6 separate regions of the Homo sapiens genome follow, and regions 2, 3, 4, 5 and 6 are each linked to region 1. Evidence: fine-mapped expression QTL. A gene starts in region 1. Each other region holds a variant in brackets. All regions are shown on one strand. Distances are from middle to middle.

Region 1 (5,077 bases):
ATACAGGCGCCAGCTGATGAACATTTAGGTTGTTTCATCTTTGGCTATTATGAATAATGCTAACGTTTGTAAAAAAGTTTTTGCATGGACAAATATTTTCCTTTCTCTTGGGTATATATTTAGGAGTGGAATTTGCATTATTCTTATTGGAGTGAAAATCAGAAGCAATTTCATGGTCTAACAATGGAATTATGTTACACTCTCAATAGTATTATGCAGAAATGCTACAGTCTCAAGAGTAACATGCAGAAAAATGGTGGCTTTTTTGAATGAAGACCATATAATAATAGGCTACATGAAGTGAAAAAAAGAAAAAAAAAGGATACAACCCACTTGAAATCCTCCTAGGGCTTCCCATTCCTTCTTCTGTTCTATGGCATCTGTCCTCTGCTTCCACATCCTGCCTCAGTTGTCTGAGGGCCAGCCACACTAGCTTTCAGAGATTTTTAGAACGTCTCAGCTTCGGAGCCTTTTCACATAACTTCCTCTGCTTGTATCATTCTTTGCCCAGTGGTTTCAAGTCTCATCTTAAATGTCACTTCTTCAGAAAAACCTTCTCTGATATCCCAAACCAGGCGGAAAGGCAAGCGTTTCCACAGCAGCCGGCGATTTTCCATCTTAACGGTTTTAATACCAGAATTGTTTACTTGGTCAAATATTGAGAGCCTTTTATACACAGGGATAGAGGGTGAAACATGCAAGATCCCTGCCGCCTGCGACCTTATATTCTAGGGAGGGGATACATGCACAAGTAAACAAGTAAATGTACTTGGTAATTTTACATAGTGATAATTAGCTCAATGGTTATCCTCTGTTTGGACTGTAAACTCCATGAAGGCAGGAGCTATGTCTGTCTTGGCTACTTCCAGTTTGCTGAGTCTGGCCACTAAATAAACTCAACACATATTTTTTCACTGACAGTTAAAATAACTATATAAAAAACAAATGGAAAAAACAAACGAGACTTCTATAAATGGTTGAGATCTAGCTCTTCCTCTTTCAAAACTCTGTAATACTACATATTTTTAAATAATTAAAACAATCAAAATAGCAAAAAGTTACCGTTTGTACTAACAGAACCCCAAATAAAACCCATTTATGTCACCACACATTCTTTAAGCACCTGGTAATAAAACCTATTCGGAAATACTCAGACGTGTTGGTTGAGTGGATAAAATCCCCTTGCCACATTGCCAAGCAGGTTCCTCGCCGTCAGCAGTATAATTTACAGTGTTTCACTGAGGCCTTAAGCACCCATGATTTGATTCTCCCTAATTTTCCGATTCCTAAAACCCTTTAGAATCTCCCTCCACCCACACAATGTGGCAGTGAGAAAAACCGCAATTCTATTTACATGTCAACGGTAAGAACACGTAATACTTTGCTAGGTCAACAAATCTGCAAGATCTCCACCCAAGAGATCAGTAGCCCCTTCCCAGTGAATCCTTCTAAGAGCCTGGGGACGAGTAGGGCTAGATAAAACCAAGCTGCTGTAAAGCTGGACCACAGGAGCGGATCGTGAAATCCCCTCCCCCAAGCGCAGCGCTCGGCCGCTTCTTTCTTCCCCAGGCGCATGCGCAGCGCACTCTCCGGCCACCGCACGCCCCCTCAGTGGGGGCCCAGAGACGCTGACGTCACCGTGCGGTCTGCAAGCAACCCTTCCGCTCCTTCAAGGAAAATGAGTCCACGGACCTTCGGCTTTTCTTAGCCACGAGAAAACGTCCTCCCTCCTTCCATCCTAGTGCCAACGACTTCCCCAGCCCGTCTCCTTTCGGCCGCACTTCTCTGTACTTTCGTTGGACCGGGAAGGCGGCGGGGAGGAACAGGAAGGGTGAAAGACCAAGTCCGCGTAGTTTACAAGGAGTGGGCGAGTCTAGGAATCGGTCCGCGAGGGCGGAGCCGAGGAAGCCGGCACTTCTTCCTCCCTTCCCCTCTCTTCCCCTCCCTCCCCAGCCTTCCCCGCGAGCGGACGCGGCAGCGCCTCTGTCTCGCTTTTTCTTATTTTTCCCCCCTTTCCCCTTTCTTTTTTTTTTTTTCTTTTCTTTTCTCCCCTCCCCCCCTTTCACCATTTCCCCTCGGAGGCGCTTTCCCCGGGCAGGGGCAGAGCCGGTCTCACCCCCCGCCTCTCCCCGGCCCCCGCCGCCCTATGGCGAGAGGGAGCCCCCTCCCAACCCGGGCTCGAGCGGCGGCGGCCTCAGGCCGGGGGTCATCATGGAACTAATTCGCTGACCGACCCAGCGGCCGCAGCCGTGCGTCCCGCTCGAGCGCCAGCGCCCGCGCCCGCGCCCCCCGATCCGCTTCCCCTTTCTCCCTCCTCAGTTGGCCGAGTCGTCCCGCGCGCACCGCCTCCGCGCGCCTATGAGAATGAGGTGGTAACGGGCCCCCGGATGACCCCGCGTCACCACTGTGAGGCCTACAGCTCTGCCGGGGAGGAGGAGGAGGAGGAAGAGGAGGAGAAGGTGAGGGGCGGGGGCGGGGGCGGGGGCTCGACGCGTCTCCGCGGCCGGCGTCGACGCGCTGGGGCCCCGCTGCTCCCCCCGCGCCGCCCCCGTGGCAGCGCCCTTGGCCGCGCGCTGCTCGCCGGAGACCCACCCTCCCGCATCCCCCAGCCCGGGGAACCTCGGGGCCGCCCTCTTCGTCCTCTCCGGCCCAGACAGACCCGTCACCTGCCCACTTGAAAACGGCACTACTGTGTTCCTTTTCGGGCCAGTTTTTCTGTCAGCGAGTAACTTTTTTTTGTGGCAGCGGCAAATTAGCTACTCTATAGTGCGTGTTGGAGGCTCTACGAGCCCGTGTTAATACACAAAGAAGGGGACACACCCCCACCCTCAGGTTGAACGATTCTCCGGGGACACCAGGAGGATTACTAACTTTGCACGGCAGACTGAATGCCAAATGAATGGGGTGAACCTCCGGTGCTGTGAAATTCGGGGGAGGGCAACGTTACCCAGGGCTTGGGGCGGGTGGGTGGGGGGAATCCGGGGGAGGTGAGATTTGAGTTGTGCTCTAAAGGCTAGATTAAATAACTGGAATTTGAAAGGAGGACAGAGGAGCCTCCGCTGGAGCTAGGGGGCTCCGTTACAGATCCTTTTGGCAGAAGTTGACAATTGGGTATCAAAACAGTGGAAGGTGTTTCGGGAGGTAGGATGGATTCAGACTCTGAAGGGGTTTGAACTAAAATGTTTATGTTTTATTCTGTCAGTGGGGAGCCACTCGACTTAGAGCAGCAGAGCATTACAGTAATGACGTTAAATAACAACATTTGATGAGGCTTATTATCTGCCAGGCATTCTCCTAAGTGGCTTGCAATTCACTTAATCCCCCCAAGGCTGGTAGTAGGAGCCTCATTTTACAGATGAGGAAAACTGAGACTCCACAAGATTAACTTTCTCCTTAGGTAACGCGGCTAAAACCCAGTAGCCAGAATTAAGTCTGATTCTACGCTGTGTGGTCTCTGTCCTGAAAATGAGTTTGTTGAAATAGCAGTGTTATCTGCTGCTAGCTTTTCCAGGTCATTTGTGGCAGATGAAATAGAAAGGATTGGACAAATAGATTAAGAAATAATGGACGGAATAGATGTAGATTGGCTAATCTGGGACCAGAGAATCTCCGAGAGATTCTGAGCCCCTCTACTAGAAATTTCTTGATACCGATGAAGGGCAGACTAATACAGTCAGCATGTGTTAGGGAAGTTCAGTAAAAATGATCTGCAGTTACAGGTAGTTTATGTGGTAATGTGACATCCTAGTAGGTTAGAATGGAGCTTAGCATGTGTGTTGGTCAAGATTGGAAGCTGAGTGTGTCCGTGTTTTGTTTTGATTGTGTAATACATTAAAAATGAATATTCATCTTCCTATGTATGTTTCTTCGTCTTTAAAATGGGCTTTATGGCTGAAATGGGGGTGTAGTAAGAAAAATAAAAAACTAGAAAAAAAGGGCTTTCCACAGTTTCATCAAATTGTGGGAACATTACATGAGTTAATATGGCATAGCGCTTTGAACAATAGGTAGTCAAATAGTAAGCACTCAGTGCTTTTACTTGTTAAGCTGTTTACAAGTGAAGCTATTAGGCATATGCTCAACTCTGGAGATTAACATCAAAGAATTCATTATTAGGAAAGGCAAGTTTACCAATAGTCTCAAAGCAACTAAATGTAAAGGTAGAATTATGTCCAAGTACAGATGTTGGAAGGCAGGGCACAACTGCACAAATCCAGAGAGTCTTACAGACTGATGGCTACTTTAGGAAGGGAAGTATGAGCTAGAGGACATTTCAAGTTGAAACAGCAGTGCTTGTACAGCCAGGGAGATTGGGAAAGAGCATACACTTGGAATTGCAAATACCTTTAATTCATTGTTTCTAGTGCATAAAGTCAAGGAGGGAATAGTAGAACTTCAGTTTCTTGTATGGCCACGTTAATCCCTCCTTTCAGAAGAGGAACTAAGATTCAGAAGTCAGCACTAGTACAGGATTATTAATGGAATTGGTGTGATGATGATAGCAAATACAATAATACATATTAGTGAAGTTGTTTATATTGTATACCCAGCACTGTGCAGCACTTTTCCTCAGAGGAGCAGGGGGCCCTGTATGTATATCTGTAATAGTTATGCTGTACAGTAAGCCTTTTATAAACTATTACCTCAGACATTAAGCTATTTGATAACCGTGGAGAAAGGAGAAGCGGCAGCAATTGAGAGGATGGGAGGAGAAATGTGAAACTGGCATAAAGTTTGATGTGTGTGGAATATGCCAACTAAAATAGTCTTTTGTTATTTCTTGCTTTTCTAAAAAAGCATGCAAAGTTGGATGTAACCAACAATAGGCATACAGTAACAAAACATAACTATATAGTTCTGTTAAAACTAAAATTGTATTTTAAATGTTTGCATTTTCTTAGCGGAATTTATTAATTCAACTCAAAATGTGCTTTACCCGTAGAAAATAGGCTTGTGCACTGTCAGTAAAAGAAAAGCCAAGCCCATGCTTTCTGTATCATAGTATGTCTTACTAGTCTTGTCTTTTGTTCTTTTATGTGGAACATACATTATGACCCTATACTGCTAAATATTTCAC
Region 2 (5,077 bases), 57 kb after region 1:
GTGCCTTTGTTTCCTCATCTGTAAAATGTGGATAATAATGACATCAACTAGGTAAGTTAGTTGAGATAATGCAAATAAAGCAATTATCACAATGCCTGACAACATATGTATTAATCTTCACCCACCAGATCCTTCCATCATCACCATCTCAATCCAGCAAGCATTTCTGTGATGTACCACCATGCCACTCTCGCCACTGTCTGGGAGACACCTGATTGCTAGATGCCTTCATACCTGAAGGGTTTGCTGTCAGGGTCAGTGTCCTTGAACCCCATCTCTTCAAGCTTACAGCGTCGGTACAATTCATAGTGGCGGGTGTGAGTCTGCTCTCGCAAGTCCTCCATGTTCACGCGGATCAGCATCTCTCGAAGTTTCACAAAATCGCAATGATTTTCATTCTCAACTACAAGAGAGGGGGGAAATGGCGGAAGTGGGATTAGCAATGATGTCACTGAAATATCTGCAGTGATGCTTCCAAGATGTTATTACCATCACTCCTGAAATCTCTGGGGTCTCAAGACCATCTGAAGATCCTTTACTGGATTCACCTTACATTCCTGACGAAGACAAGATTTCTGACAACATTGACCATAATACTGATGACAACGCTGACTGCTGAGTGCCTACTCAGCACAGAGCACAGAGGGAGGAGCTTGAAAACAAATATTGTCTTTACCCTTCATAATAACTCTGCCAACTAGATGTCATGACTCTTGCTTTGCAGACGCAGGAGCTTGGTGAGCAAGCTGACCTCCCAAAGAGAGGTAGCAGGGTCTAGATTCAAATGCCAGAACATCTGGCCCAAAGCCAGATGTATTTGTACCACTCCATGCTGTCTATAACTGTGCAGGGCCACTTTTACATACCACTTCATTTAATTTTATCAACAACACTAGGAAGAAAGGAGTTTTCTTATTGTAGAGAAATTAGTAAGAGTAAGAAAAATTGTATTTTTCCCAGGGATCTCAAAGGTACTGTTTCTTCTCACAGCTTTATTGCCTTTATTCAAAACAGAGGAAAAGGAGGTCTGATACATCTTAAACCAGCGAAGAACTTTCTTTAGCCATCCTGCTTAATCCATAGCACTGGATGTCCTCCTTCAGAACATAAGAGTAGGTCATAGAGTCCTTGTCATTCAAAGTGACACACGTGACAAGCTTTCAGGTTAGACTGTGGCCATGTCCCACAGTGCCAAATATAGATCAAATATTCTCCTAAGTCTCAGATTTACTAAGATAACATTTTATTAGAAGACATTTTTTGCATAGTTGATGGAGAAAAAAGTACCCTCTTGTTTGCAAGAAACTTTTTGCTGCTTTTTAATACTTGGCTGATGAAACGAGCTCCAACTCCTAGGGAAGAACTATTTTTCAATCAGGACTTTATATTAATTCCCTACACAACCCAGCATCCTTGAGGGGTTACCTCAAGGGCTTGGCAGCCATGTCTCTCCATTGTCTACCTAGCTGATTACTTTTTCTTTCTTCCTCACCTCCACGATTGTCACATGTGGAGCCCCACCACTCCCTCCCACTGCCAGCCCACTGTTGAGGGCCTCCCTAAACAAGACGGAAAATGAACAAACACGGCCATTCACATAGGGGCTAAATATGAAGACTCCATCTCCCATGCTGTGCACATACCCTGCACCACACCCCAGGGGTACTGCCTGGCCTTTGCCATCTTGTTGCCAATCTTCACCTCTTCGGTGCTGCCAACCACTGCAAATGGGAGATGGACCTGCCAAGCAAAAGGACAGAGAATAGTTACTTTCCCCTGCTCTGACAGACTGGTTTCCACCAGTCTCTATCTTCTCCCTCCTTCTGCAGGCCTCTACTTGGTGACAAGGGAAAAGCAGGCTGCAGTTTGGTGGGTGGATGTCACGTATCCCACCCCCCTTATAACCAAACACTGAGTATGAGACACGAGCTAGATTCAAGGGAAAAGTGTATGAGTCTTTGCAACTATAAAGTAAGCTTAAGACTTGTGCTAGCCGATGCAGTAGCCACTAACTATATGTGACTGTTGAGCACCTGAAATACAGCTTGTAGGAACAAGAAATTGAATATCTAACTTTTAATTAGTTTACATCTAAATTTAAAATGGAAGCAACGTAAAATATTTTTCAATTAAATGCAACTTTATTGTTTTGGCAAAACTGCATTTCACTTTGCTTCAAACTCAAATCTTCTGAAAAAGACCAAGGTAGATGGCAAGGTAGACACAAAGATTAAAGATAAAGTATCTTTTTGGCACTTATTTCATATTGAAAATCTTTAAGGTATGTTAGGAGAAACCTGTATGTAAATTTAACTTTTTAGCTGTGAATTTTACAAAATGTAAATACAGATAAAATATTTTTGGTGAAAATTCAGTCCACGATGAGATATGCTGTCATTGTAAAATATACACTGGATCTCAAAGACCTACATTAAAATATCTTTTTTTTTTTTTTTGAGATGGAGTCTCGCTCTGTTGCCCAGGCTGGAGTGCAGTGGCGCGATCTCGGCTCACTGCAAGCTCTGCCCTCCGGGTTCACGCCATTCTCCTGCCTCAGCGTCCCAAATAGCTGGGACTACAGGCACCGGCCACCATGCCCAGCTAATTTTTGTATTTTTAGTAGA[A/G]ACGGGGTTTCACCGTGTTAGCCAGGATGGTCTCGATCTCCTGACCTTGTGATCCGCCCGCCTTGGCCTCCGAAAGTGCTGGGATTACTCCGAAAGTGCTGGCGTGAGTCACCGTGCCCAGCCTAAAATATCTAATAATTTTTATATTGAATACATGTTGAAATTATATTTTGCAACATATTGGGTTAAGTCCTTAAAATTAATTTCACATTTCTTTTTACTTTTTTAAGGTAGCTACTAGAAAATTTTAAAATACTTGTGTGTCTCACATTATAGTTCTATTTGAACAACACTGCTTTAGACAGTTGACTATTGCACAAATTTCTAAGTCCGAAACACACTTTAGCCCAAATTACTGGCTCAAGCTATGCACCCAGATTTATCTGAAGTAGAGATGGTGTCCAAGACAACTGACTCTTTCACATTGGTTTATTTGGTAGTTATCACTGCATTCTGAGTGAGGGAGGAAATAATAATCCTATCTTTTTTCTATTAGCATGTAAGAATAAGATTTGAAATAGCTGCTCCAAGAATTATTATTTAGAGTTCCTTGATCCAGTGTTCTTCCACCATAGATACACTGAGAAAGAAGATAAAGTTTTCAAGCCAATTCCTCTCCTACAAAGAACTTGGCATAATCATTGGCTCAGATTGCCCAAGTAGCATTTTGTTGGACGCTCAAGATATTGAAATGTTCTAGTTCATCTCACACCCTAAGAAGGAAAGAAAGCACATTATCTTTCTCAAACAAGTCTGAGTTTCAGACCTGAACCCTATTGTTTCCCCTGAAGTTGAGGAGCAACAGGACCTTTCTGGTCAATATTTTGGTGTAATGACCAAGGAAATTTCTCCACTCAAATGTAACAAAAGCAACTGCCAGTGGAATCTGTTTTCCTCAGACATTACGTGGAATTTGATCAGCAAGAATAGTTTGTAATGAAGAGCCTAAAAGAAAATTTCTTTAAAGAGCAGGATTAATTTGGAATGTCAGAGATTCAGTTCTATTAATCTGATAAAGAGAGAAAGAGAGCAAAAATTCTTGGGTATTTTATTTCCAATAAGTTTAACAAAGATATAGTTCCATGACTAGAAAATAATGAAAAATTATCTAGAAGGATAGGAATATAAAGAAAAATTACATAGCAGTCATTCATGATACTTCCTGAATCCCACACTGACATCCCAAATTACAGTTCTACAGCAGAATAAAGGAGTGCCATCTCAGTTTGAGATTTTGACCTTCCTATAAAAAAGTACAGACCTCCTGCAGTATCCACAGGGTACCGGTTCCAGGACTGTCCATGGACACTGAAATCTGCAGGTGCTCAAATCTCTGATATAAAATGGTATAGTATTTACAAATAACCTATGCACATCCTCCTGTATACTTTAAATCATCTCTAAATTACTTATAATATCTAAGACAATGTAAACACTATATAAATAGTTATTATACTCTATTTAAAAAAATTTTTTTTGTAGAATTTATTTTTTATTTTCTTGCTATGTTGACCAGGCTGGTCTTGAGCCCCTGGCCTCAAGTGATCCTCCCTCCTCGGCCTTCCAAAGTGCTGGGATTACAGGTATGAGCCACTGTGCCTGGCCATATATATATATATATGTGTATATATATATATATATATATATGTGTATATATATATATATGTGTATATATATATATGTGTGTGTATATATATGCTATATATATATTTTAGCATATATAATATATATGCTATATATATTATAAAAACAATAATACAAAATATATATATATGCTATATATATACACATATATATATATATTTTGTATTATTGTTTTTATTGTTGCATTTTTTTTTTCCAAATATCTTTGGTCCATGGTTGGTGAAATCCATGGATGCCGAGGCTGATGGTACACTGCTCTGCTCGGGCGGCAGTACACAGGGTGAGAGTGTAGCCTGACAGCCAAAGCCTGGGTTCCAATTCTACCTCCACTACCCACAGCCATGCAATCTTAGGTGCTGTGCTGCAGTCTCCTCATATATGAGGGAGGAATAATAACAGCACCTACCTATGCAACTGTTGTGAGGATTAAATGGAAAGTCTTGAACAGTTCCTGGTGCATAGTAAATGCTCCAGAAATGTGAAAAATGTCAGGTGCTATTATTATTATGTAGCTCTCAATACCCACAACCAGAGAATTTTAGAGGTGGAAGAGATCTTGCTTATTATACGTTCAATCCTGCTTAAGAATTCCTGCTACAGTATCTCTTCCAAGTGGACTGAAACAGGGTCTGTTATCTACAAACCACTGGCGATGGGAACTCACTACTTCCCAAGAAGTAAGGTGTATCTTCCATCTCAGTGGCTCTACTAGTTAAACACTCACTTCGTAATGGGACCAAAACCCCTTGGTGATCTTTTGTCCATTCATTCTTTTGCACAAGTCTAGCCATTTTCCCTTGTGGCAACCT
Region 3 (5,077 bases), 150 kb before region 1:
GACTATATTTTAGAACTTTTCAGACACCAAAAAGCCTTTAAGGTCACAACTGATATGCTTAAAGTTCATCGTTCCTTTTAAAACACATTCCTGAAGTGGCAGAACATCTTAGGGAAGCATGATTAGATAATCCAGTACATTCTCTTGTTAACAGGCAAGGAATTCTACATGGGCAGGAAATTTTTGAGCTAGGATCCACCCACAACTAGTAGTTGTGATTGACTACAAGTCCAACTAGATTCCATTTTAAGATTCGCTTGCTTTGTGTTTCTTAATGTAGCTACTAAAAGTTCCAGTTACACAGGTGGCTCACAATGTTTCAATTGGACAGTGCTGCCCGCCAGGTTATCAGTAGGTAGAGCTCCCTGTGCTGAGTGAGAAGAATTAAAGTCTTAAGAGGATGATGTCTACGATGGCACCCAAGGACAGCCATCTCAGAGTGCAGATGCTCTAAGGCCTCAGCATGCCTGTCTCTGCTACCTGGCATTCTGGTCTGACCCTGGAAAGTTCTCCAATTATATCTACTCCATTACCATTTTCAAAGAATGCACCAAGACTCCTCAGCTCATTCAGGCTGTTGTATCTTGATCCAAATAGTCTTACCCCATTCATTGACCAGAAGATGACAAGGGGAATTGGAAGAGGATAGAAGACAGACTTTGGTAGCATCTCAGCAGGCTTACTTGAGATTTAGAGCCTTAGTTTTACCACTTGGCCTCCCACAAGAGAGACTCAGAAGGTAGCATTACTTTATTAAAAATGTAATGTTGATCAAACATGAAGACTCCAGAGTCTACTATCATGTTACCTCTGCCCTATAATTTAGAAATCTAAATTTCTAGTTCATTGAGTTCCTTCTTAGCCAGAGTTGTCATTCTAATAGAGCAAATGGTTGGGTCAAGCTAAGTAGCAGCTGCCAACTCACATAGGCTATTGCTTGTCTGTTGCTGCCAAACAAATGATCCCAAATTAGCAGCTTAAAACAGTTTCCAAGGGTTAGGAACACAAGTACAGCCTAGGTAAATGCCTCTGGTTCACGTTCTCTCATGAGGTTGCAATCCAGCTGTTAGCCAGATAAGTTTCCATTTGAAGGCTCAGTGTCAGGGGGATCTGCCTCCAAGTATACTCATGGCAGCTGTCACACCTCAGAATGTCTACTTCCAAACTCACTCACAGGTGGTGAGCTTCAACTCCTGACAGGCTGTTGGACTGAGGGTTTCTGCTACTTGCTGTGACACTTTTATCCTCCATGGGGTGACTCATAAATGTAGCAGCTTGCCGTCTCCTTGAACAACTGATCAAAGAGAAAAAGACCAACTACAGAAGCCAGTCTCTATAGCCTAATCTTGGAAGTAATGTACCATCAACTTCTTCCATTAACTATTCATCACAAGGCAAGTAACTACATCTACCCTGAAAGTAGGGTGCTTACCACATGTGAGGATCACTGGGGCTCTCACAGGTTGCCCACCTCCCCACATGGACTGTGCTATCTCCTGCGTCCTATCACTCCTTATCTTGTACTTTGCCTCATGGCTCAGTTACCTTGGACACCTCTTAAGTTTTGACACCTGCTGTTGAAAGGCATGAAAGTTTTCATCTGAAGTCAAGAGATAATGGAGGTCTTGCCTGAGACAGAGGGTCCTGACACCACTCGGGATTTGGATCAGGAGTTGGTTTTTCCACATTGCAGTAACAGGCAGTTCCTAGAACCCCAAGGACCATCATAAACTGAATAGCCAATTTAGCTGTTTCGGAATGATACTAATAAAGTCTGTACCTATGGGATCCATCCTCTAACCTATCATTTTGGTACACCTCCACACAGCTCACTTGCGTCTCCCTGGCCTCTGTGCTTTACTAGCACCTGGTTCTAGGCAGCTCTGTCGACTCTTCTGAAAGCTCATTGTCAAAGTTACGACACATCAGGCAAGTAAAAATAAGTTAAAACTCCCACCCCTCTCATGGGTAGAGCCACTTTTGATCTCTTGCTTATACATGCAAGAAGACTGGGACAGGACTGCTCCTGCCTGAGGAGTACACCAACCTGAGGAACCTGCAACAGGTACCTAGAAAAGCCCTGCTCCAGGCGATAGACAAGTTCTGGCTTTGTTGTTCTTCCTTGGATAGGTCTTTCAGAGTGTCTGAGTGAAGAGGGTAAAGATGGAATGGCCTTAGGACAAGAGATCTTGAAGCTTCAGGCTACCTTTGACCAAGGCAGAGAAAAGTCTTTCAGGTGGTCCAAGCCAT[T/G]TAGACTTACATTGAACTACCTTGATTTATACATGCTACGATCATCAGATGCAGAAAGGGCGTTTAACAGTTAATCTTTTCATGGAGAAAAGGGAATTAGGTATAGAAGTGTTTTGAACACAAAAGGCCATATATTGCAAGCCCACAACTAACATCATACTCAATAGTGGAAAGCTGAACACTCTTCCTCTAGGATCAAGCAACAAGACAGTTGCTTCACTACTTTTGTTCAGTGCAGTAGTGGAAGTCCTAGCCAGAGCAAGGGGCCAAGAAGAATCAAATGCATCCAAATCAGAAAGGTAAAGTAATGTTGCCGTTGTTTGCAGACATCATATAGAAAACCCTAAAGACTCCACTGTTAAAACTAATGAGTTCAGTCATGTTGCAGGATACAAACATACAGGAATGTAGCATTTCTATACACTACACTGCCCCAAAAAGAACAATCCCACTTAATCAAAAAAAGACTTAGGAATAAGTTAACCAGAGAGATAGAAGATCTTCGTACAGAAAACTAAACACTGAAATTTGAGATAAATGGGAAGATATCCCAAGCTCATAAGATGCAATATTAAGATGTCCACACTACCCAAAGCAGTCTACAGATGCAAAATTCATTTTCATAGAAATAGGAAGAAGAGTCTTAAAATTCATAGGATAGCCTGCTAGGAAAACTTCTGCTAGAACAAATCCGCTAGAACACTACCTGATCTCAGTGCCAGGTTAGTTATCCTAGCAGTATGATACCAGCATTAAAACAGACCAATGGGCCAACAGAACAGGACAGAAAGCCAGAAAAACTCAAACATATGTAGTCAACTAGTTCAGTGGTACCAAGATGACACCATAGGGAAAGGTTAGACGCTTCAATAAGTGGTTTTGGGAAAACGATTTCTACAGGCAAAAAAGGAATTGAACCCTTATACACAAGTGACTAATGGATTAGAGCCCTAAATCAAGTCCTGAAACTAATACCCCTGCAAGAAAACACAGTTTGACATTGGTCTTGGCAATTATTTCTTGAACAGGATACCAAAAAGTATAGGCAACAAAAGCAAATTTAAGTGAGACTACAAATTGAAGAACTTCTACACAGCAAAAGAAACAAAATGAAAAGGCAGCCTATGAATTTGCCGGAGTATTTGCAAACAATATCTAATAAGGTGTTAACATACGAAGTTTAGTCAATTCACATCTCAATATTAATAAAACAACCCAATTTTCAAAGTTGGTAGGAGCTAAATAGACATTTCTCCAAAGATGACATACAAGTGGCCAGATATATATGAAGTGCTCCACATCTCTGGTCAGGAAAATGTCAATCAAAACCACAATGAAGCATCACCTCATGTCTGTTAGGATGACTTTTCAAAGAGACAAGCTGGTGTTGGCAAGAATGTAGAGAAGGGAAGGAAACCTTGTCTGCTGTTGGTGGGAATTAGATTGGTGCAGATGTTATGGAGAACAATATGGAGCTTCCTCAAGAAGTTAAGAGCCCAACATTTCCTCTTACAGGTATATACCCAAAGGAAATGAAGTCACCACCTTGTAACGATGCCTATGCGCCCATGTTCATTTTAGCATCATTCAGCCTTAGAAGGCAATCCTGTAATTTGTGACAACATGGATGAACCTGGAAAATATTAAGTGAAATAAACCAAGCCAAGACAACTCATGATCTTATTGTAGAATCTAAGAAAACCAAATATTTAATACATAGAAACATTCAAACAGTGCTTACAGAGAACAGGGGGAAGTAAGATGTAAGTCAAAGGGGTATAAAGTTGCAGTCATGTAGGTAAAGTCTGGAGATCTAATATGCAATGTGAGAGCTATAGTTAATACTGTGTTGTACACTGATTTGAGACAGGGTCTTACTCTGTCGCCCAGGTTAGAATGCAGTGGGGCAATCTCAGCTCACTGTAACCTCAACTTCCCAGGATCAAGCAATTCTCAGGCCTCAGCCTCCCAAGTAGCTGGGAGTACGCCATCATATCTGGCTAATTTTTGTATCTTTAGTACAGTTTTGCCATGTTGGCCAGGCTGGTCTCGAACTTTTGGCCTCAAGCGATCTGCCCCCCTCAGCCTCCTAAAGTGCTGGGATTACAGGCATGAGACACCGCACCCAGTCCCACTGATTTGAGTAGATTTTAGGTACTCTCACCACACAGGTTTATACGTGCTACAGAAGTGACATTTAAAAGGACAGACCATTACTGATAAGTGTTCTATGATCGTCCTGAAAAGTTTGATTCCTACAGATTCTCCTTAGTTTGATTCTTACATTATATTTAACAGATGTTGGCAGTATATTAGCCTCTACACACTGTATCCTACTTGGAGTTGTTAAGGAGGCAGCTTTAGGCTAAACTTACATATTAAAGTTCAGCCTAAAGGTTTCTCTATACATTGTTAATTACAATAAGTGGAGTTATAACCAGACCACAGCCTACACTTGTGCCAGAGTTGGCCAATCAAATGTAGTCAACCATTCAAACTATTCAAATAAGCAAATGTCAAGCTGCAACCAATTGGCTGTTTCTGTACCTCACTTCTGTTTTCTTTATAACACTTTTTCTGTCTAAGTCTACTACATGTGACTACGCTGGGGTGTCTGAGCATACTTTGGCTCAGGAGGCTGCCCGAGTCGTGAATCATTCATTGCTCAACTGAACTCTTAAATTTAATTCAGTTGAAGTCTCTTATCAGAATAAAACTAGTCCTCATGGACTCTGTTGGCAGGTATCCAGTAACTAAAGCTCAGTTCTATTTCGGGTAGGGGGTGGGGGCAGGGGATGGGACATGCTCAGGAAAGGCAGTGGCCCTA
Region 4 (5,077 bases), 75 kb before region 1:
TTGAGAACTAAATGCTCGGTTGACTCTGAAGCCCGACTCAGTACTTTGTTATCCAGTGCTCTCTCTTTTACACGAATAATCAACTGAAATAAATGAAGTAGCTTTGACATAATGTGAAAAGCCTGGCAAAGGAGAGTGAACTGAGAATTCGGCAATGCCTGAAATCAGAACTAATCATCTCAAAATCATCTTAAAATATATTTTAAGTGGCTCAGGCTACATTCTGGTACATTGTACATGATTCTTTATGTAACACATTTTTCTTTCATGGTTTGTTTCAAGAACCATGACCTAACTCAGAGATTTCCTGTCTTTCCTTGACATCACAGTGCTATATGAAGTTGACACTGTCAGCAAAGAGTAACTTAGGATACATCTGTTGAATGTATCATCTTATTTCCAAAAGAAGTTTTACTGTCTGTGAGAGTCATGATCTCTTTTTTTATCTCAAATGAAAAGGCAATTGATGTTTAAAGTGATATGGATAAGTGGTATAAGCTTAAAATTTGCTTCTGTTAACATTTTAAAGTGTTTTCAAAATGAAATTTTTTTTTTAACTTTAAAAAGAAAGACTGCTGTTGAAACCCTGTCTCTACTAAAAATACAAAAATTAGCTGGGTGTGGTGGCACACACCTGTAGTCCCAGCTACTTGGGAGGCTGAGACAGGAGAATCACTTGAACCTGGGAAGTGGAGGTTGCAGTGAGCCAAGATCACGCCACTGCACTCCAGCCTGGTGACAGAGCGAGACTCCGTCTCAGAAAAAAAGAAAGACTGCTTTATATCAAAGATCCTCAGGTCTGTTTAATTACGTATATTTTTATGTTTTCAACCACATTCTGAATAAGAAATTGTGGCTACATGCAGAAGTAGAACCAGATTTAAGGTAGTACATTTGAAGCTTTACTATTTGGAGGGGCTCTCTCTAGGAAAAAAAGAATTTACAAATACAAAATTAGATATGAAAGTGAATACTTATTTAAAACGAGACAATTCAAGACAAAGTGTAAATTTTAAACAGTTGTTACATACTGACTGCTTCGGCTATCTACTGCTGTACAATGAATCACCCAAAACTTAGTGACTCAAAACAACAATAATTTTATTATCATCACCCACAGGTCTGGGGCGTTGCTTGAACTCAGCTGGGCAGCCCTTGCTCAGGGTTTCTTATGAAGTTGTAATCAGATGGTAACTGCGGCTGGCATCATCTTGCTGCCACTCACGTGTCTGGAGTTGTTGCTGACTGTGGGCTGGGACCTCTGCTGAGGCTGGTGGCTGGAACATTTATATGTGACCACTCCACGTGGTCTTTCCATTTCCTCATGGCATGGTGGCAGGGCCTGAAGAAAATCAGGTGAACACTGTGTCTCCTTTTACAAACCAGCCTTGGCAGTCAGATAGCATCTATATTAATTTCACACTGATGGTCTAGGAAATTACCACAAATTTAGGGATTTAAAACAACAAATGTTTATCATATTACAGTTCTGGAGGTCAGAAGTTCAAAATGGGTCTCACTGGGCTAAAATCAAGGTGTCAGCAGGGCTGCAGTCCTTCTGAAGGCTCTAGAGAGTATTCATTTTCTTGCCTTTTCCACCATCTAGAGGCCACCTGCGTTCCTTGGCTTGTGGCTCTTCCTCCATCTTTAAAGCCGGCATCATGGCATCTCCAGATCTCTCTTGACTCTGACTCTTCTGCCTCCCACTTCCAGCTATAAGGACCTTAGTGATTACATTGGGCCCACCTGAATAGTCCAGTATAGTCTCACCATCTCAACGTCAGCTGGTGCTTGCTTCAGCATCACATATATTAAAATTGTTTTTTTGTTGTTTTTTTTGTGTGTGGGGGGGGTTGTTTGTTGTTTGTTTGTTTGTTTTGAGATGGAGTCTTACTCTGTCACCCAGGCTGGAGTGCAGTGGCACGATCTCGGCTCACTGCAACCTCTGCCTCCTGGGTTCAAGGGATTCTCCTGCCTCAGCCTCCCAAGTAGCTGGGATTATAGGTGTGCACCACCACGCCCAGCTAATTTTTGTATTTTTGGCAGAGACAGGGTTTTGCCCTCTTGGCCAGGCTGGTCTTGAACTCCTGACTTCAGGTGATCTGCCCGCTTCAGCCTCCCAAAGTACTGAGATTACAGGCGTGAGCCACCACGCCTGGCCACATATATTAAAATTGGAATGTTACAGAGAAGATTAGCATGGCCCCCATGCAAGGATGACAGGCAAATTTATGAAGTGTTCCGTATTTTTAAGAAAAAGAAAAGTTTGGGCATGGTGGCTCATGTCTGTAATCCCTGCACTTTGGGAGGCCGAGATGGGAGGATTGCCTGAGCCCAGGGCTTCTAGACCAGCCTGGGCAACATGGCAAGACGTTTTCTCTACAAAAATTTTAAAAATTAGCCAAGCATGGTGGCATGCACTTGTAGTCTCAGCTTGGGAGGCTGAGGTGGGAGTATCACTTGAGTCCAGGTCAAGGTTGCAGTGAGCCATGTTCACACCACTGCACTCTAGGCTGGGTGACAGAGAAAGACCCTGTCTCAAAAAAAAAGAAAAGAAAAGAAAAGAAAAGAAAAAAAAGGTCAGCAGATTTGCAACCTTAATTCCATCTTGCTATATTACATAACATATTCACAGCTGGTGAGGAATAGGATGTGGACATTTTTGAGGGACCTTTATTCTGTCAACTACAACATCCTTTCAGCCACAGTCACATCTACTCAGGTTCAAAGACAGGGAACGTAGATTCCACTTCTCAATGAGGGATGTGTCAATCACCTTATAACAAGAGCATGTGGGATAGGAGATACTGTGATGACTGTCTCTGGAAAATAGTCTTTTACATTCACAAACATAAAAAATCTGGAAAATCCCATAATATTTTTTATTAATAAACTGCCTGACATATGGCTGTACAACTTTTTACCAATATTTTTGGCTGTATACTCTCTGATCACCTCTTCATATGATAATA[ATATATTAATAT/T]AATTTTCTGAAGAGAACTTTTTTTAAATTTAGTTTTTCCTTTAATATGGCTAATCAAATTTTGTTTTTAAAAAATTGTTGCTGTTTTAAAATGTTTATTTCAGTTTTATAATTCATTATTAATACCATAGTATATGTTATGGTTGATATTAGATTTGGGAAAATCTTTACCAAGTTTTTTTCTGCGTACAAGCTATAAAAAATCCAGGATACCAGTGAAAACGGATAGACTAATTATTTAGCTTCTCATCTGTTTCTTCATTGCAGAAGCATATTTTGAGGTTTATGTCATCTTTGTCAATGTCAGTATTTTGTATCAAATCAGCAAGAAATTTCTATATTTTGTAGGATTTTATGATTCCTTCCTCTTAATAGAGTATCAAACAATCCAAGACTTATCCATTACTTCTAAAAATTTCTCTTTTCCCTGTAAGGAAGCACTGGTTTTAGAATGATCTGGAAAAAGTGTTATACATAGTTTGCTTCTTCGTATCTGAACAAGAAGCAATGTCATCATGCATTTTTATCACTTTTATTTCATATCCCATTAACTTTTTATGTAAATTTTCTCTTAGTTCTTCAATAAAAGCACTTTTAGATAACAAAACAGAGCACCTTTCTTTTATATCCAAATTAGGTTTTTATAATTCCTCATTGTTTTATTGGAACAATCCAAAATGTGTTTTTAAATTTTAGTTAAATGATATGTTTTCAACTCAACTTCCCCTTAGATCCCCAAAATGCTGGTGGACACTCAAGCACCTCTAAATTCAAGGGAAAATGATACAGTGAAATTTGACATGGAGAAAGATAGCAGCCTTAACTGATTGTAATTAAAATCACTTACTTTCACAAAACTCAAAAAAATATATATGTGAACTGTATCAGTCAGGGTTCTCCAGAGAAACAAAGCCAATAGGATATATATAGATATAGTCATGCACAGCAAAATGATGTTTCAATCAGTAACGCATCACATATACAACAGTGGTTCCATAATATTATAACATTGTATTTTTACTGTAGCTTTTATCTGTTTAGATATGTTTAAATACACAACTATTTACCATTGTGTTAGAGTTATCTACAGTATTTGGCACAGTAACATGCCGCAAAGATTTGTAGCCTAGGAACAGTAGGTTATACCATATAGCTTAGGTGTGTAGTAAGCTATAGTACCAAAATTTGTGTAAGTACACTCTATGAAGTTTACACAATAATAAAATTGCCTAATGACGCATTTCTCAGAACTTATCTTCATCATTAAGCAATGCATGACTGTATATAGAAGGAGATTTATAATGAGGGATTGGCTTATGCAATTATGGAGGCTGAGAAATCCCACAATCTGCTGTCTGCAAGCTGGAGGCCCATGAAACCAGGTGGTGTAGTTCCAGTACAAGGCCCAAAGGCCTGAGAATCCCGGAAACCAATAGTGTTAAGTCCCAGTCCAAGTCCAAAGGCCTGAGAATCAGGAGCACTGATATCCAAGGCAGGAGAAGATGAATGTCCCAGCTCAAACAGCAAGGGCAAATTCACCCTTCTCCTCTGCCGTTTTGTTCTATTCAGGCCTTCAGCATAGTGGATAATGCCCACCCACATTGGTGAGTGTGGTCTTCTTTACTAGTCTACTGATCCAAATGCCCTTCTCTTCTGGAAATGCTTTCACAGATACACCCCAAGATGTGTTTTGCCAGCTACCTGGGCATCCCTTAGTTCAGTCAAGTTGACATAAAATTAACCAACACATGAACACTCTGCTAGGGCCACTCCTGAGAACTTGGAGAGAGTGTGCAAATGAGGGCCCCTGAAGCTAAATTTCATTAGCTTTATAATAATCTACATGTAGTAATCAATAATGAAGTTGTCAAGCACCGTATTCAGTGATTTATATGTCCTGACATAACTTTAATGCCTGTAACACACACAAGTGGTAAGTACCATCACACAGACCCAGAAATAGAGTCCCAGGGAGTTTATGTAACTTGATCCCACAGCTAGACAGTGGTGGAATCAGTGTTCAAACCTAGACAATCTGACTCTAGCATCCACACTCTTAACCACTATTTTACAGTGACATAGTTACTATGTTAC
Region 5 (5,077 bases), 30 kb before region 1:
CTCAGTGTTTAGCTCCCATTTATAAGTGAGAACATGCAGTATTTGGTTTTCTGTTCCTGCATTAATTCACTTAGGATAATGGCCTCCAGCTGCATCCATGCTGCTGCAAAGGACATGATTTCATTCTTTTGTATGGTTTTGCCAACACTTATCTTTTGTCTTTTTGATAATAGTCATGCTAACAAGTGTCAGGTGATATCCCATTGTGGTTTTGATTTGCATTTCCCTGATGATTATTGATGCTGAGCATTTTTCATATACCTATTGGCAACTTGTATGTCTTCTATGTCTTTTGCCCATTTTTAATAGGGTTACTTGCTTTTTTTTTCACTATTGAATTGTTTGAGTTCCTTGTATATATATTTTGGATATTAATCCCTTATCAGAGATAGAGTTTGCAAATATTTTCATCCATTCTGTAAGTTGTCTCTTCACTCTGTTGTTTCATTTGCTGTACAGAAGCTTTTTGTTCCATGTAATTCTAACCATCTATTTTTGCTCTTGTTGCCTTTGCTTTTGTGGTAATATCCAAAACACTCTTGCACAGACCAAAGTCATGGAGTTTCCTCTAATGTTTTCTTCTAGTAGTTTCATTGTTTCCGATCTTACGTTTAAGTTATTAATACATTTTGAGTTGATTTTTGTATATGATAGGAGATAAGGGTCTAATTTCATCTTTCTGCGTGTGGATATCCAGTTTTCCCGACAGAATTTTTTTAAGAGACTCTCCTTTCCATTGTGTGCTCTTGGTGCCTTTGTCGAAAATCAGTTGGCCATAAATGCATGGATTTACTTCTGGGGTCTCTATTTTGTTTCATTGTTCTATATGTCTGTTTTTATGCTGTTTTGGTTACTATAATTTTGCAGCTTATTTTGAAATCATGAAGTCTGATGCCTTCAGCTTTACTCTTTTTGCTCAAGATTGCTTTGGCTATTTGGTGCCTTTTGTGGTTCTATACAATTTTAGGATTGTATTTTCTATTTCTGTGAAGAATGTCATTGGCATTTTGATAGGGATTGCATTGAATCTATAGTTCATTTTGGGTAGTATGGACATTTTAACAATCTTAATTTTTGCAATCTATGAACACAGGGTATCGTTCCATTTATTTGTGTCTTCTTCAATTTCTTTCATCAGTGCTGTATAGTTTTTAGTGTAAGGATCTTTCACCTTCTTGGTTAAATTTATTCCTAAGTATTTCAATTTTTGTAGCTATTGTGTATGGGATTGTTTTCTTAACTTGTTTTTCAGACAGTTTGCTATTGGTATATAGAAATGCTACCAACTTTTCTATGATGATTTTGTATACTGTAATTTTACTGAATTTGTTTATTAGATCTAACAGTTTTTTTTTTTGGTGGAGTCTTTAGGGTTTTTTCAGTATAAAATCATTTCATCTTCAAAGAGGAATAATTTAACTTCTCCAACAAAGAAATTCAAATCACCAATAACACCAATCTTCAGTGATAATCACTTCTAATATTTTTTAAAATATACTTCCAGCCTTTTTTATAAGCACAAATAATTTTTTGAAACAAAATGGATTATGTTGCACATATTTGAATTATTTAAGATCCTTTGAATACAAGCAACTTCAATCAGATTGACTTTTAGGTATTAATTAAATAATTAATTCAATACTTATTGAGTACCTACAATATACAAATAATTTCATAGCATGAAAAAAGAAAAAAAAAAAAAACAGACAAACTGGCCAGGCTCAGTGGATCATGCTTGTAATCCCAGCACTTTGGGAGGCTGACGTGGGAGATCACTTGAGCTCAGGAGTTTGAGACCAGCCTGGGCAACATGGTGAAACCCTGTCTCTATTAAAAATTCAGAAAGAAAAAAAAAATGCTTCTGTTTTCAAGATATCGGGATATCAGGACACTCCCAAGTCTGGGTCTGTTTAGTAAACATTATCAATCTGTTCCCTTAACTGTAAACATCGAGAGGCTAGGAATACCTAACTTGCTGGGTACGCAGCCCAGCAAGTCCCAGCCTCATTTTCATAGTCCTTACTCCAGATGGAGTCGCTCTGGTTCGAACACTTGACAGTGGTGTGCACCTGTAGTCCCATCTACTCAAGAGGTCGAGGTGGGAGGACAGGCTGAGCCTAGGAGGTTGAGGCTGCAGTGAGCTGTGAACCACTTCACTCCACCCTGGGTGACAGAGCAAGATCTTGCCTCAAAAAAAAAAGAAAAGAAAAGAAAAAAGAAAAAAAAAGAAAGGCAAAAAAGGATCTCACATTTCTCACATTTGGAAATTTTTGTTTGATAGCCTAGAATTTAACTTTACAACACTATGGTAAAATGCAACCACATAAATGAACACAACCCTACAGTGTAGCATAGGTTTATTATGGTTTAAATAGACCATCTGTATGTGCTCAAGTTTGCAACTAAAATTAATAAGGTCGTGTTACAGCTTTAAAATCCA[T/C]GCAGGAACGTTTTCAGGAAGCAAAGGGCTATGGTTTTGTCTAATGAGGCAGGCCTACAGCAGGGCTGCATTCACTTGGCACGATATGCTTTCTGTGTCCCGAGGATTCTCTTGGGACATATTGACTTACCTGGAGCAGGTAAACAAACTCACTGGAGAATGCAGCCTACACCCCAGACATGATTTTGCCTTTACACACAACCGCAGGACTGAGAAGCTGGGCTTGGCATAGGGCCAGGCAGACCGCTGACAGAAGGTTAAGAAGGAGAACTCTGCAAATGGGCCACAGAGCCTCAGGACTGGATCTACTCAGTAGCTTCCTAACATTCTGGCAGAGAGTGACATTCTTTATAAAGCAAGAAAGAAATTTTCCCTCATTTGGAGCTAGAAAGTTTTATGCCTAAAATAAATATGATTCATGTCCCAGGAAAGCTTGGTTCTGAAGAACTCTGTGTCCTTGGCTGACTTACACCTCCCTCACGCCTTAAAATCTGATTTCCGATTCCCAACCTGAGGTGCAAACTCTACCCTTTATTTTCAAGGTCCAGGAAGACCTGGACCCTCAGAAGGTCACTCAAGAGGAACCATTCTTTGGGACAGAATTATGCAGCTTATGTCCCAAGAGTTTGTTTGAGCTCCAGTTGTCAGAAAAGTGTGATAATTCTATGGTTTTCCCCCTTTTACTCTACCACTGGAAGTCCCCTAAATTTACTTAGCAGTATTTCCCTGAAGCTATAAAGCCAAGCTATTTTTTTCCCCTTAACTCAGGAATGTTTTAATATGTAAATATGAATTCCACAGAGATTTTGCTTGACTACTATAGTTTAAGCTGTCAAATTAGTTCAGTGATTTAATTCAGTAAACTCCATTATTTCTTTTTCTATTGCAAATTAATATGCAGGTCATCTCTTCAGATACGTGTGTTTTAGGCCGGGCACGGTGGCTCCCATCTATAATCCCAGCACTTTGAGAGGCCAAGGTAGGTGGACCACCTGAGGTCAGGAGTTCAAGACGAGCCTGGCCAACATGGTGAAGCCCCGTTTCTACTAAAAAATACAAAAATTAGCCGGGGGTGGTGGCAGGCACCTGTAATCCCAGCTACTTGGGAGGCTGAAGCAGGAGAATCTCTTGAACCTGGGAGGCAGAGATTTCAGTGAGCTGAGATCATGCCACTGCACTACAGCCTGGGCGACAGAGAAAGACTGTCGCAAAAAAGAAAGAAAAAAAAAGAGATATGTGTGTTTTAAACTTTATGCATAGTAGCAATCAATTATGTGATAAAACCATTAAATTGCTCAAAGAAAAAAGCATTCTTAACTCATAAGATTAACAAAGTTTCTTTAAACAAGGCCAGTTTTTTTAAAAATAGATCTGTCAAAATCTGTTTGAATAAAAAAATTTAAAAACACTAAAAATAAACAACAGGATATTCAATTCACAGCAACCAATTAGAAGGGGCCCAGTTTACCTGAGCCAGCATAAGGAAGTCCCCTTTGTTTTAACCCTGTAAGGAAACTAGCTCTGTAACAACCAATTCTCTTTTTGTTCCTTGTTTCTGCTTTCTTTTCTTTTTTTGAGACGGAGTCTCGCTCTTGTTGCCCAGGCTGGAGTGCAATGGCACAATCTCAGCTCACTGCAGCCTCCGCCTCCCGCGTTCAAGCGATTCTCCTGCCTCAGTCTCCCAAGTAGCTGGGATTACAGGTATGTACCACCACACCCGGCTAATTCTGTATTTTTAATAGAGACTGGGTTTCTCCATGTTGGTCAGGCTAGTCTTGAACTCCTGACCTCAGGAGACCCGCCCGCCTCGGCCTCCCAAAGCGCTGGGATTACAGGCATAAGCCACCGCGCCCTGCCTGTTTCTGCTTTCTTTAGCCTTCTTCTACCTATAAAGCCTACTTCCTGTGCTCGGCTAATCAGAGCACCTTTCTAATTTTAGAAGGGATGGGGCTCCATTCACTAATCACTAAATAAAAGCTAATTTGATTAAAATGAATTTGTCAAAAAAATTTTGACATATATATATATATATATATATATATATATATATATGCATGATACAAGTATCATAAGCACTTTGTAAAACAGATACACTATATGTCATAGAATATAGTAATTGCGGTGCCGCGTGGTGGCTCACACCTATAATCCCAGCACCTTGGGAGACCGAGGTGGGTGGATCACCCGAGGTCAGGAGTTTGAGACCAGCCTGGCCAACACGACGAAACCCTGTCTCTACTAAAAATACAAAAATTAGCTGGGCATGGTGGTGGGTACCTGTAATCCCATCTACTCGGGAAGCTGAGGCAGGAGAATTGCTTGAACCCGGGAGGTGGAGGTTGCAGTAAGCCAAGATTGCGCCATTGCACTCCAGCCTGGGCAACAAGAGTGAAACTCTGTCTCAAAAAAAAAAAAAAAAAAATATATATATATATATATAGCGGGGGGCGGGGGGTGGGGGGAGGAGGGGAGAGAGAGAGAGAAATTGCAGTATTTGGAGTAATTTTCTCACCAGTAATCTCATTAACCTTTTTACTTAAGTTGCATTTAGTATTCATTTGTTTATTTCTTAAGGAAAAATGACATCTACAGAGCATTTTTTTCTTCCAAGTAATGAAAATATCCTGTGAAATATTA
Region 6 (5,077 bases), 130 kb before region 1:
ATGAAGGATTAGAGATGAGTTTAAAATAAAGCATTACTTCATTTTAAAAGTTAAATATACCCCAATTCTGCTACAATAGCTTTAAATTCTTCTGTTCTGGTCAACATACTTCTGAGGGATGTGAGATTGGCCTCTGCTGTGAAAGCTATTAAAACAAAGCCTTTTGGTTGTTTTCCTCTGAGTAGCATTGCTATCACTCCAACCTAGATTCAGTAGGTTAAACAAGCTTATTTGTCACATGAAGAACTCAGTACATTAAGCACTATATGCACAATAGTCATTCTGTACAAGAACATTAACATGTACCTCAGTTACCTCTAGATAACTATCATTGTACATTTGTAGTCGTCACCTGTCACCTGTATGTTCTTCCAACGAACCATGTATTTCTTCCCCTTTGTTTGCTAGGGTGTGGGTTTAACAAAATTTGGCATTTTCTATTTATTGTGTTTTACAAAGTATTGGTCCATGGCAGATCAGAACCAAATGGGTCCTTTAGGTAGTCTCAAAAGCTAGTCGGGGTCATTTTAACTTTAACTGTAGTTGAGACCTATTAACTCACTAGAAGATCAGCCATTTCTAGGCACTAGGCTAAGGTCCTAAGCCTTCCATCCAAGCACAAGAAGGTGTTTAGGGAAACAGGTTTCTCAAAACCAGCTCAAGATTTGCAGCTATGTTTATTCTCATATACCTTGAGCAAATGAGAACAAAGCAATTAGCCTTGTGTGGAAGGAATGGAGGGATTGTGTTGATAATGCCAACCCTAGAAGCCATCTTAGGAGAAGAGGCAAGAGGCCCAAACAATGAAGCAAGGGTGAAGCAAAAGCTGCCAGAGAGGACCTAACGGGGCCTGCCCTCATGTTTGGAGCCTTGGACTGTTTCAGGAATTAGACACACGGGGTCTTGCCACTTTGAAGCATGGGGCACAACCAGTTTTAAACTGCCATCAACAGGGGGCGCTTAGTAACCATAAAAGCTTGACTGAGTTGCAAAGCCATGACTTTGCTAACTCTTGAAAAGTGAGCTGGACGTAAGGATGCTCCCCGTTTGGAGTGAATGCTTTACCACAGCAGCATAGACACCGTTGAAACATTTACTCAGAGTCGAGTAGAGTAAGCTACTTGGTCTCAATTTCATACTGTCTTCAAGAGCACAGGTGAGCCATGGCTATCTGCTATGCTGGTTAGACATGCAGTCATGTAAGCTTTTCTTAGGACCAGTTCAGCATAGTTGTGGAACTTTGTCACATTGGAAGGCCTCATGACCCCAGTTTGAGGGGTTTCTCCCATCGAGACCCATTATCCCAAGGGCTCTCTCCCAGAGTCCCTGCTGCTGCTAGGGACACAGTCACAGGACTTAGCCTCTAGCAATCAGAGACACCAGGACTATTTCAGAAAGGAACAAGGAGTCAGTAGGTGGAACCATTTTAGAGTAGGGCAGCTACTTAATTTGGTGGGTTTAATGTGGAGGAATTGGTGAGCATATGAGACCAGAGCAAATCAATCAACTCCTGCTACACTGAGTTCTGGACATTATCTCATGTTTTACTCACTCGTTTATAACCTGAAAGCAAGGAAAAACTTGTTACAAGAATAAAACAAAAGCTACATGTTTAGAAGGGCCCAAGTTTACCAAGATTGCCCAACAACCCTGTTTTTCTAGCTTCTCTCCCCTCTGCGAAATTTGGGAGTTGGAAAGATACATCAGAAGTCAGTGATAAGTTTAGAGACATGGTTCTACCATAGTCTAACTCAGCCAAGCCTTATCTTTCTAGTATTAGGACTAAGACATTTGGGATTCACGAAGGGTTGAGATTTACCAGAAAAAAAGCCATGGGGTTAAATAAATGAAAGATACTATAACAAGGAAATAAAGTCAATAAAGGCAACAGCTGGAATGAGAAAGTCTGTGGGTTGGAGATTTGTGTCAAGAGAAGTAGTCTTAACAGGCCTGAAGTGGAATGACTTGAACAAGAGACTTGAACAAGCTGGAGAGGAAGACGGGGTGAGTGAGACAAAACTGGGTTGTTTAGGACAAAGTACAAGGTGTTAACCACCTATTCATGAGGAATTCCAGTAGGAAGCAGTTGACAGGAAGGTGAGTCAGGGGATGGGGAAGGTGTTTTCACAACCATACTAACACCTCTTCTTGCAGAACTAGTTATCTGGCTGTGGACCCAAACCTGGGGTTCAGGTCCCAATACACTTTGTATAAGGAAGACCTTGTGCAGGTTTAGCTTCAGATTATCATATAGGTGATAACCACCAAGGACAGAGTAGTTGAGATGTCATATTCCTGGCAGATCCGGCCCATAAATGCTTTCTCAGGTATGTCAGGTTAAATAGAAACTGATTATGGTAACACCTCCAAATAAGATTTCTATCAGTTCTGGTTTGTCAGGTGACATACTAATTGCCTCACTAATCAGACAAGTATTGTTACGCTAGTCTAGATTTTTACTGTTAACAGGAAGGTATATGAATACATTGCTTGTATAAAACAAGCAGTCCTTAACTGGTTTTATTAAGGCACTCCCGAGAGATGTTAGGTGCAGTTAAGCCACAGGCCAAGAGAAAAGGGAGAAAAAAAGAACAGCAAGATATGCTGTAAATTATGACAGATTTACTCCACCCTTTTTATGTCTATTTGGTCATTTAGTCATAGACAATCAAGTACATGACTAAGCTCAGGACATTTAACCCATTACACCCTGCCACACCAAAAGCTTTTCATAGAAGCCCCATGTTACCCAC[CACG/G]TTGACATTTGAGTCAGTGTACTCAAGAGCCAGGTAAGCACAGGGAAACAATCATTTCCTGTAGCATGAGTGGTCTTAAGACATCTAGCTTCCTGTTGAGCAAGGTAAGAATGACATCCACCCGACTATTTGATTTTAGAGGTTTAGCTTATTGATCCGAGTTATACCTGACCCTTAACCATAAAGCATTAAAGTGAGACGTTTGTTCTCAAGGCAAGCTATAGCAAGTCACTGTAAGAGGAGTAGTATATGGAAAGACTTCAAAACAACCTAAAGTGAACAATTTCCTAGGTTTGAGAGATTGTGAGGGTGACACTGAGCCTCAGTTTTTCTCTATAAAATAAAACCCTGAGGTAGTTACTCCTATAAGTGAACCAATATGAGAGCATTCAGAACAATGGCATGAAGTCAAGTCTGGGTGACTCTTGTACATACTATTCCTTGTCCACATTCATAGGTATTTTGCAAGTTGAGTCATGACTGGTCTGTTCATAGTCACCATGGTCCTATACATTCATGAATCAGTATGTATATGGTCTTAAATGCCTGCGACATTAAGAGGAAATCAGCTCACTACCCAACAACCTTAAAGCAAAGCAGTAAGAATTAAGGATAGGGAAATAGAACCTTAAAAGATGACAAGAGGTGGGTGGGAAGTGGTATAAGATTAGGCAAAAGTAACTAGTATGAACATGAAAATAGAACCAGAATGCTGAGAGAACCCAAAGAGATGGCTATATATGGAACCAGAGTGTTCTTAAAAATCCACCCCAAATTGACCAGAAGCATGGTAACTGGAAGTGACGTGAAACCACCTAGTAGAAATTTGAGCAGAAACTGCACAGCAGTGGGGAATTCACTATGAAGTATACCAATAAGTGTGGCTTCCTCAACCTGTAGAGGCTGTGTTGGTTCAAAACAATGTTGCATAGGTTTGGGGATACCCATGGCATTGTTTATAGTTCTACTTCCAAGTTCATCTGGGAATGTGTCTCATCTATTGATCTGACAAGTCTTTCTCAACCCTGTGAGAGGTATAGAAATCTTTGAAAGACATGCTAAAGATACCCAGCTCCTACAAATGGTGGGGGTGGGTGGAGAATAGAATAGCAAGCAACAGCTAGCATTTGTGAGAACTCTGATTTCTTATGAGCTAACAGATCTATTAGTTCAAATTGTACATGTCCCCATATAACTAGGGACATGCCTACTACCAGTAAAGTTGACAAAATGCAGTCAATCCACTTAGTACCTGATCATAAGCAAAAAACTTTAAAATGCAATTCCACGTGTTGAAATTTAAGACATCAAGAAAGCCCCTCTGAATCATGGTTGTGACTGAGTATCTACTGGAAGAAGCTTCTATCACCAGGGAGGGTCTTTACCTATGCACTCAAATCCTATGGAGTCTTGGACAAAGCAAAATAGTCACTGAAATATTACACGGCAGGTGACAAACTGACAGCTGGGAGTTCAGCATGTTTCTCTCAGCCTAAGTCAAATGGACACCAGCGAGTTTTCCCGTGCATTGGGTCCTTTGCTGTTGCTAGGCTTTATTTCCGTCAAGACTGATTCATTATTCAAGGGCAGTTACAGGTGTATGTGTACAATAATTATCTTCCATTAGGTCACATGTCTGGCCAGTCTCAAGCTCATCTTTGGTCAAACTGTTCATGTCGCATTAGCTCAAGACCAGGATGGACATATGCAGACTCATCCTAGACAAGTGCTTTTTATGCTGGAGTAATAGCCAAAGTTTAGCTTGGGTGAAACATTGGATGCCTTTGCTGCTGAGTCGAGGGAATCACTGGTTTTTATTCTGAGACAAACTTTCCAAATACTCCTTGGTAAGTGAAATATGGGCAAGTTCTGCCTAAGAGAACAGTAACTAAGATCAAGTTGAGAAGACAGTTGTAGGAAGGACTGCTCCAATTACCATAAAGTGTTAGTTGCCTCCCCAACAGGCTAACTTGCTGGTAGAGGCTCACACAAGGTGAGGGAAACAACTCTTCCATCACACTCAAATCCAAGTGACAAGATAGCCAAGTCTGTTATACAAGCTAATTGGTTAAAGCAGAACACTTGCCAGAGGAGCTCAAGTATTTGGCTCACTTAAATGTCATACACAACAAAGCCAGACAGTGTTTGAGATTCTTCATTACCCTCAGTATCAGTCACAAATAATCTAGCATCATACAGAGAAAGCAGTGAGGGGAAGAGCACAGGAGCTTCCAGGTAATGGCCCTAGTTAACTCCGGGCCTCAAGTGGGTTCATAAACAAGTTGGTCCATGTTCTGGTTAGTATTTTTGTCAACTGCCCC

Direction of the effects. Positions count from the first base shown, and alleles are read on the strand shown. Sizes are in standard deviations (SD) of each study's normalised expression. Not every link is listed here.
In carriers of allele CACG in region 6, the expression in esophagus mucosa of the gene that starts at base 1,942 in region 1 tends to be lower than with G alone (small effect, 0.14 SD a copy in GTEx).

The links. PIP is the estimated chance that this variant, and not a neighbour inherited with it, causes the effect.
Region 2: its variant is fine-mapped to the expression of CCNI in whole blood (TOPMed, PIP above 0.99).
Region 3: its variant is fine-mapped to the expression of CCNI in esophagus mucosa (GTEx, PIP 0.94).
Region 4: its variant is fine-mapped to the expression of CCNI in whole blood (TOPMed, PIP 0.96).
Region 5: its variant is fine-mapped to the expression of CCNI in whole blood (INTERVAL, PIP above 0.99).
Region 6: its variant is fine-mapped to the expression of CCNI in esophagus mucosa (GTEx, PIP above 0.99).

The regions. Positions count from the first base shown.
Region 1 is chr4:77,072,854-77,077,930 of GRCh38, reverse strand. CCNI (cyclin I) reads left to right here and starts at 1,942. Exons shown (of 7, transcript NM_006835.3): 1 at 1,942-2,459. RefSeq lists enhancers at 776-1,746, 1,645-1,874 and silencers at 2,055-2,404, 2,465-2,614.
Region 2 is chr4:77,015,828-77,020,904 of GRCh38, reverse strand. SEPTIN11 (septin 11) reads right to left here. Exons shown (of 10, transcript NM_018243.4): 6 at 1,644-1,740; 7 at 235-403. It overlaps LOC105377291 (a long non-coding RNA gene), which reads left to right. Exons shown (of 2, transcript XR_001741734.2): 2 at 129-5,077. Among named protein-coding and RNA genes, the nearest start is that of CCNI, 58 kb to the left of the region's middle. The variant A/G (reference allele first, on the strand shown) is at 2,625.
Region 3 is chr4:77,221,314-77,226,390 of GRCh38, reverse strand. No RefSeq gene overlaps it. Among named protein-coding and RNA genes, the nearest start is that of CCNG2, 67 kb to the right of the region's middle. The variant T/G (reference allele first, on the strand shown) is at 2,251.
Region 4 is chr4:77,147,502-77,152,578 of GRCh38, reverse strand. It overlaps the pseudogene RNU6-1187P. Among named protein-coding and RNA genes, the nearest start is that of CCNG2, 7.2 kb to the left of the region's middle. The variant ATATATTAATAT/T (reference allele first, on the strand shown) is at 2,973.
Region 5 is chr4:77,102,674-77,107,750 of GRCh38, reverse strand. No RefSeq gene overlaps it. Among named protein-coding and RNA genes, the nearest start is that of CCNI, 29 kb to the right of the region's middle. The variant T/C (reference allele first, on the strand shown) is at 2,441.
Region 6 is chr4:77,199,672-77,204,748 of GRCh38, reverse strand. No RefSeq gene overlaps it. Among named protein-coding and RNA genes, the nearest start is that of CCNG2, 45 kb to the right of the region's middle. The variant CACG/G (reference allele first, on the strand shown) is at 2,754.